3 separate regions of the Homo sapiens genome follow, and all the other regions are linked to region 1. Evidence: fine-mapped expression QTL. A gene starts in region 1. Each other region holds a variant in brackets. All regions are shown on one strand. Distances are from middle to middle. Region 1 holds the start of FOXS1 (forkhead box S1). Region 2 overlaps TPX2 (TPX2 microtubule nucleation factor). Region 3 overlaps TPX2 (TPX2 microtubule nucleation factor).

Evidence for each region. PIP is the estimated chance that this variant, and not a neighbour inherited with it, causes the effect.
Region 2: its variant is fine-mapped to the expression of FOXS1 in subcutaneous fat (GTEx, PIP above 0.99).
Region 3: its variant is fine-mapped to the expression of FOXS1 in nucleus accumbens (GTEx, PIP 0.95).

What each region holds. Positions count from the first base shown.
Region 1 is chr20:31,844,329-31,847,092 of GRCh38, reverse strand. FOXS1 (forkhead box S1) reads left to right here and starts at 1,489. Exons shown (of 1, transcript NM_004118.4): 1 at 1,489-2,764. The coding sequence starts at 1,551. The coding sequence ends at 2,543. It also overlaps a transcript of DUSP15 not described here. RefSeq lists an enhancer at 1,548-2,105.
Region 2 is chr20:31,750,067-31,752,830 of GRCh38, reverse strand. The region is part of intron 2 of TPX2 (TPX2 microtubule nucleation factor); the gene reads right to left. Among named protein-coding and RNA genes, the nearest start is that of TPX2, 12 kb to the right of the region's middle. The variant G/C (reference allele first, on the strand shown) is at 1,489.
Region 3 is chr20:31,761,753-31,764,516 of GRCh38, reverse strand. All of the region lies in intron 4 of TPX2 (TPX2 microtubule nucleation factor), which reads right to left. Among named protein-coding and RNA genes, the nearest start is that of TPX2, 24 kb to the right of the region's middle. The variant T/C (reference allele first, on the strand shown) is at 1,334.

The DNA of each region.
Region 1 (2,764 bases):
GTGAGCAGTGACTTGGGAGTGGGAGAGCAGAGAGGATGCCGTCCCCTCCTCCAGAAGGCCTGACTGTTCTGGGCCTGACTCTCTGGACCTCCCGACCCCAGGCTGCAGCTGGGGTAGCCTCAGTTCAGAGTGACAATCCGCAGCCATGTTCATATCCCTACTCCATACTAGGCTCTTGATGAGGGTGCTGCATTCTGTGTAAGGGGAACCTGTTGCCTCCCCACCATGGCCTGGACAGCTGAGGAGTCACCAGCTCCATGTTAGAGATGGGGAAACTGAGGCTCAGCCAAGGTCTTGAGGTGCCTCTTGGGAGGGAGAATGTCTCTCCCCAGATAGCTGTCCTTCCCACACCAGTCACTAGGGGGCGACAGGGATGCAGCAGAACTGAATTTCATGGGCTCTCCTTACCATCCTAGGTGCCCCTCCCTGCAGACACCCCAGAGCTAGGAGGATGGGGTAGGAGTGGTGTGGCCCCAAGGCCTCTGCACCGCAGGAGAAGGCAGTAGACCACAGGCCTGGGAGAAGAGGGAAAAGCAGGAGTAGAGGTAGGGATTAGAGAAGCCCCTGGGGCTTCTCTCACTCTAGGGGGACTGGGCTCAGGCCCTGCCTCTCTCTCCTCTCTCTCTCTCTCTCTCTCTCTCTCTCTCTCTATTCATTCCTTTCACTCCTTGTGTTTGCACCTGTGTCTCTCAGTATCTCCTTTCTCTCTGGCTTTGTGGATTTCCTTGTTTCTGCCTGCTCAGTGATTCTCACTTTCTCCGTATACTACGTGTGTGTGTGTGTGTGTGTGTGTGTGTGTCTGTGTCTGTGTCTCTGTGTTTCTGTGTGTGTATGTCTCTGTGTGTCTGTGTATGTGCTTGTGTGTGTGTCTGTGTGTATGCCTATGTGTCTGTGTGTGTCTGTCTCTGTGTATATGTGTGTGTGTGCTTATGTCTGTGTGTGTGTGTCTGTGTGTGTGTCTGTGTCTGTGTGTCTCTGTGTGTCTGTACGTGTATGTCTGTGTGTCTCTGTGTGTCTGTACGTGTATGTCTGTGTGTCTCTCTGTGAGTGTCTGAGAGGCTCTGGGTGTCTCTGTCCGTTGTGTCTGCCTCTGTCTTATCTTTGTCTCTCCCTCTTTCTCCCTCTTGTGATGTCTCTACCTCTCTCTGTCTCTATCTCTTTTTTCCCTGTCTCTGTTTCATATGTTTCTGCCTCTGTCTCATTTTGTTTTTGTCTCTGTCCCGCTCAGTTTCACATCCTGTCCCTCCCCAGCCACCACCACCCAGCACACGTGGGCTGAGGGTCTCAGTCCCTTCCTTCCCAACTCCTCATCCCTGGCAGCTGCTCGGCTTCCCACTACTGGCCTCTCCTGCCCGCCTCTTTTGGGCCTTGTGGGAGTGGGGCGAGGGAGGAGGGGAGGATGGCTCAGCAGACCCACCCCTTTTTGCCTTTCCAGGCTGGGAGGCTGGGCCAGTGGACCTTTTAACCAGCCTGGGCAGGCTATTCCGGACGCCAGCCCTGGAAGCTGAGCCTGACCCAGCAGGTCCCAGCAGCCTGGCAGCCCGGCCAGCATGCAGCAGCAGCCTCTGCCCGGGCCTGGCGCCCCCACAACTGAGCCAACCAAGCCTCCCTACAGCTACATCGCCCTTATTGCTATGGCCATCCAGAGCTCACCGGGGCAGCGGGCCACCCTCAGTGGCATCTACCGCTACATCATGGGCCGATTCGCCTTCTACCGCCACAACCGGCCCGGCTGGCAGAACAGCATCCGCCACAACCTGTCACTCAACGAGTGCTTTGTCAAGGTGCCCCGCGATGACCGCAAGCCAGGCAAGGGCAGCTACTGGACGCTGGACCCTGACTGCCACGACATGTTTGAGCACGGCAGCTTCCTACGCCGCCGCCGCCGCTTCACCCGGCAGACAGGTGCTGAGGGCACCCGGGGCCCCGCCAAGGCACGCCGTGGACCCCTCAGGGCGACCAGCCAGGACCCAGGAGTCCCCAACGCCACGACCGGCAGGCAGTGCTCATTCCCACCAGAGCTGCCAGATCCCAAGGGCCTAAGCTTTGGGGGTCTGGTGGGGGCCATGCCAGCCAGTATGTGCCCAGCAACCACTGATGGCAGGCCTCGGCCACCCATGGAGCCCAAAGAGATTTCCACGCCCAAGCCTGCATGCCCAGGGGAGCTCCCCGTGGCCACCTCATCTTCCTCATGCCCAGCGTTTGGCTTTCCTGCCGGCTTCTCAGAGGCTGAGAGTTTTAATAAGGCCCCTACGCCCGTCTTGTCCCCGGAATCAGGCATCGGGAGCAGCTACCAGTGTCGGCTGCAGGCACTGAATTTTTGCATGGGGGCTGACCCAGGCCTTGAGCACCTCTTGGCCTCAGCAGCCCCCTCCCCTGCACCACCCACCCCTCCAGGCTCACTCCGGGCCCCACTGCCCCTGCCAACTGACCACAAGGAACCCTGGGTTGCAGGTGGCTTCCCTGTCCAGGGAGGCTCCGGCTACCCATTGGGGCTGACCCCCTGCCTATACCGGACGCCAGGAATGTTCTTCTTTGAGTAAAGGCAGCCTCACCTCGGGCAGTCCCTGCAGGTCCCTCACCCTCCGGGCTGAGCCTGGCTCTAGGACCTGAAGAACTCTCGAAGGACCCAGCCCTGGTGAGCCAAGGACAACCACACAGAAAGCCAGGATTGAAGCGGTGCTCAGCCAGGCCCCTGGGGCCTCCGGACAAACTTGGGGGTGAGGGGAAGCAGGGCCTCTTGGGATTTACTCTGTGGCTCTCA
Region 2 (2,764 bases), 94 kb after region 1:
CATCCTGGCTAACATGGTGAAACCCCGTCTCTACTAAAAATACAAAAAGAATTAGCCAGGCATGGTGGCGGTCACCTATAGTCCTAGCTACTCAGGAGGCTAAGGCAGGAGAATGGTGTGAACCCGGGAGGCAGAGCTTGCAGTGAGCCGAGATCACGCCACCGCATCCAGCCTGGGCAACAGTGCGAGACTCCGTCTCAAAAAAAAAGAAAAAAAAGTAGATGTAGTCCTGAACACAAAGGAACTTAACATCTACATAGACGCTAAGGTCCTATCATACACAATAAATAAGACAGTTTGTTTAAATTATACAGTATGAACTCTAAGTATAGAGAATTAGAAATTAACATGGCTGAAGTCAAGGTACGATTAAATATTTTTCATTGACCATGACCAAAACAGTAGCAAGTACATTAAAATGGAAGTTACCTCCTGATAGCCACTTTCCAAGCTTGGGGTAGCCATGGGACAGTTCTGGCCAATGAGAACTAAGTAAGAATCTGCTGAGGGATTCCTAGGAAAAAATTTTCTTTCCTGAAAACAGCTATAGCCCTTATTCCTGCCCTTTCCCTTTATCCTTCTTCTTGCCTTGAAGGCAAGCTGGAGCTATGGCAGTCATCTGGTATACATGAGTAGATGGCCAAGAGAACAATAAACATAGGGCTTAACATCAATGAGCTAATGACTATTAAAGATCAAATATCAGCTACTATATACCTCTAGACTTCTGGTGTTTTTTACAATTTTCCATGACCTGCTAAAAAGACTTCTTATACTAAAAAAAAATAGGCCAGGCACGGTAGCTCACACCTGTAATCCCAACACTTTGGAAGGCCAAGGCAGGCGGATCACCTGAGGTCAGGAGTTCGAGACCAGCCTCACCAACATGGTGAAACCCTGTCTCTAATAAAAATATAAAAATTAGCCAGGTGTGGTGGCAGGTGCCTGTAATCCCAGCTACTCGGGAGGCTGAGGCAGGAGAATCACTTGAACCCAGGAGGCGAAGGTTGCAGTGAGCTGAGATTGCGCCATTGCACTCCAGCCTGGGTGACAAGAGTGAGACTTCATCTCAGAAAATAATAATAATTATTGTATAAACCATTATAGCCACATTTTCTGTCACCTGTAGTCAAAAGCAATTCCAACTAACAGAAGTCCAGAATGCCCTCTCTGGCATTTACCACATGTATATGACAATAGGCAAGTCACTAATTCTCTGCCTACCTTCTTACCATAATCAAATAAGAAGCTACTTCAAGTGCTATGAAATACACTATTGTAAGGTATTATCACTGCTGATACCTTTCCTCTCCTTGACCACATTTCTATTCAAAGGATTTTTAGTGAAAGATTCCATGGTACTGACAGTGGTTAAAAACCCCTTGCTGCAAGGAGGAAATTTTCCTTTTCTTGTGAACAAATATGCTAGAAGACATGGGAAAATCTTGGATTCCCATGATCTTAATGCCTAACTCAGGTCACTGGGAA[G/C]GCTTCCCAGGCATGAATGTAATGAAGACGACTAAAGCTGGGGGAAGGAAGAGGCAGGAATGTAACATGCAGCAACCCCACTTAGCCTCAAAACCATGATTCCACCAAAGCATGATGCTGAAAACTACCTGGAAAGTGTTCAAATTTAACCCTTCACATCCTTTTTTTCTTTCTTTTTCATCTCTGTTTTTTAAAGAATCTAGCCTGTTGCTCAGGCTAGACTCGAACTCCTGGGCCCAAAGGATCCTCCCTCCTCAACCCCTCCTAAGTAGCTGGGCATGGTGGTGTGTGCCTGTAGTCCCAGCTAATCAGGAGGCTGAGGTGGGAGGATCATTTGAGTCCAGGAGTTTGAGGCCACAGTGACCCACGATTGCACCACTGCACTCTAACGTGGGCAACAGAGTGAGACTCTGTCTCTTAAAAGACAACAACAACAACAACAACAAAATAGTTAAGCAGTATTTATTTCCCTAGATCTATGTTTGCAGCCCAAAAGAAACTGAGCTTTCTCAAATTTTTATTAAATATTCATGACAAGCAATGATTGTCTAATCTCTTGATTTAAGGAAATAATCCTTCCCATTTACGTGGCCTATAAATTGACTATTAACTTACCCAAATGTTACATATTCTCTTTCTAATATTTCTATATAGAACTACCAACCTGGCCAACATGGTGAAACCCCATCTTTCTACTAAAAATACAAAAATTAGCTGAGTTTGGTGGCACATGCCTGTAATCCCAGCTACTCGGGAGGCTGAGGCAGGAGAATCGCTTGAATGCAGGAGGCAGAGGTTGCAGTGAGCCGAGATCATGCCACTGCACTCCAGTGTGAGACTCCGTCTCATAAATAAATAAATAAATAAATAAATAAATAAATAAATAAATAGCCGGGCACGGTGGCTCACACCTGTAATCCCAGCACTTTGGGAGGCCAAGGCGGGCGGATCGCCTGAGGTCAGGAGTTCGAGACCAGCCTCAAAATGGAGAAACCCTGTCTCTACTAAAAATATAAAATTAGCCAGGTGTGGTGGTGCATGCCTGTAATCCCAGCTACTTGGGAGACTGAGGCAGGAGAATTGCTTGAACCTGGGGGGTGGAGGTTGCAGTGAGCCAAGATCGCACCATCGCACTCCAGCCGGGGCAACAAGAGCGAAACTCCGTCTCAAAAAAAAAAAAGAAATCGAGACCATCCTGGCCAACATGGTGAAACCCTGTCTCTACTAAAAACACAAAATTAGCTGGGCATCGTGGCATGCGCCTGTAGTCCCAGCT
Region 3 (2,764 bases), 83 kb after region 1:
ACAGAATTTCAATGGGGATAAAGAAGATCATTTCAAACTGTTAAAGTGGGGCCAGGCACAGTGGCTCAACCTGTAATCCCAGAACTTTGGAAGGCTGAGGTGGGTGGAGCACTTGAGCCCAGGAGTTCAAAACCAGCCTAGGCAACATGGCAAAATTCTGTCTCTACAAAAAATACAAAAACTAGCTAGGCATGGTAGTGGCATCTGTGGTCCCAGCTACTCAAGAGGCTGAGGTAAGAGGATCACCTGTGCCCAGGAGGTAGAGGCTGCAGTGAGGCGTGATTGCTCCACTGCAGTCCAGCCTGGGTGACAGAGTGAGACCCTGTCTCAAAAATATATACATATACATGTATGTGTACATGTATGTACACATACATGTATATGTACATATATACACACATACATGTATATTAGATGTATGTACATATATATATGCTTGTGTGTATATATATGTGTGTATGTGTGTGTGTATATATATGTATATAATTTTTTGTTTTTGAGATGGAGTCTTGCTCTATCGCCCAGGCTGGAGTACAGTGGCATGATCTTGGCTCACTGCAGCCTCCGCCTCCCAGGTTTCAGCGATTCTCCTACCTCAGCCTCCCGAGTAGCTGGGACTACAGGTGCGCACCACCACACCCGGCTAATTTTTGTATTTTTCAGTAGAGACAGGGTTTCACCATATTGGCCAGGCTGGTCTCGAACTCCTGACCTTGTGATCCGCCCACCTCAGCCTCCCAAAGTGCTGGGATTACAGGCATGAGGTATCACGTCCAGCCAAAAAAAAAAAAAAAATTAAATTTAAATTAAATTAAATTTAAATTAAATTAAAGTGGCCAATTCATCAACGTGACATAACAATCCTAAACATTTATGCATCTAATAGTAGCTTCAAACTATATGAAGCAAAAATTATAAAGATAAAGAGACAAATCCATAATTACAGTCTGAGATTTCACTACCTCTCTCTCTAATTGATGGAACAAATGGAAAGAAAAATTAGTAAGAATACAACAGCCATAAATAATGTATAAGCAGGACAGGCGCAGTAGCTCACGCCTGTAATCCCAGCACTTTCAGAGGCCGAGGCAGGTAGATCACCTGAGGTCAGGAGTTCGAGACCAGCCTGGCCAAAATGGTGAAACTCCATCTCTATTAAAAATACAAAAATTATCTAGGGGTGGTGGCAGATGCCTGTAATCCCAGCTACTCCAGAGGCTGAGGCAGGAGAATCACTTGAACCCGGGGGGCGGAGGTTGCAGTAAGCCAAGATCGCACCACTGCACTCCAGCCTGGGCAACAAGAGTGAGACTCTGTCTCAAGAAAAAAAACC[T/C]AAAATTCACATGGAACCACAAAAGACCCCATATAGCCAAACCAATCCTATGCAAAGAGAACAAAGCTGAAGGCATCAAATTACCAGCCTTCAAAATACATTACAAAGCTATAGTAACCATAACAGCATGGTACTGGCATAAAAACAGACACACAGACAAATGGAATAGGATAGAGAACCCAGGAAAAAATCCACGTATTTATAGCCAACTGATTTTTGACAACAGCACCAAGAACATTCCTTGGTGGAGGGACAGTCTTTTCAATAAATGGTGCTAGCTTTGGGAGGCTGAAGTGGTAGGATTGTTTAAGCCCAGGAATTCTGAGACAAGCCTAGGCAATAGAGTAAGACCTCATCTCTAAAATAAAATTTAAATTTGAAAAATCAAAAAATGGTGCTGATCAAACTAGATATTTAAATGCAGAAAAATGAAACTAGACATCTATTTCTTACCATATACAAAAATCAACTCAAAATGGATTAAAGACTAATATGTAAGACCTTAAACTATGAAACAACTAAAAACATAGGGGAGGCCGAGGGCGGTGGTTCATGACTCTAATCCCAGCACTTTGGGAGGCCGAGGTGGGAGGATCACTTGAAGTCAGGAGTTCAAGACCAGCCTGACCGACATCACGAAACCCCATCTCTACTAAAAATACAAAAATTAGCTGGGTGTGGTGGTGCGCGCCTGTAGTCACAACTACTTGGGAGGTTGGGGCAGGAGGATCACTTGAACCCGGGAGGCGGAGGTTGCAGTGAGCCGAGATCGTACTACTGCACTCCAGCCTGGGCAACAGAGTGAGACTCTGTCTCAAAAATAAATAAATAAAGTAATAAAATAAAAACATAGGTGAAATACTTTAGGACACGGTTCTGGGCAAAGATCCTATGAACATGACCTCAAAAGTATAGGCAACAAAAGCAAAAGTAGACAAATGGGATTATATTAAATTTAAAACTTTCTGCACAGCAGAGGAAACAATCAACAGAGTGAAGAGACAACTAAAGAATGGGAGAAAATACGTGCTAACTATTCATTCAAGAAGGGACTAATATCCAGAATACACAAGGAACTCAAATAACTCAACAGCCGGACAAATGAGCTGAACAGACATCTCTCAAAAGAACACATACAAATGGCAAACAGGTATGTGAAAAAATGCTCAACATCACTAATCATCAGGGAAATGCAAATTAAAAATCACAATGAGATATCCTTTCATCCCAGTTAGAATGGACACTATGAAAAATATTAAAAATTTCTCTGCATCCCTGAGGATGCAGAGAAAGGAGAACTCTTATATATTGTTAGTAGTAAAGTCAATTAGTACAGCTATTATGGAAAACAGTATGGAGGCTCCTCAAAAAATTAAAAATATAATTACCATATGATCCAGCAATCCCCCTACTGGGTATATATCCAAAAAG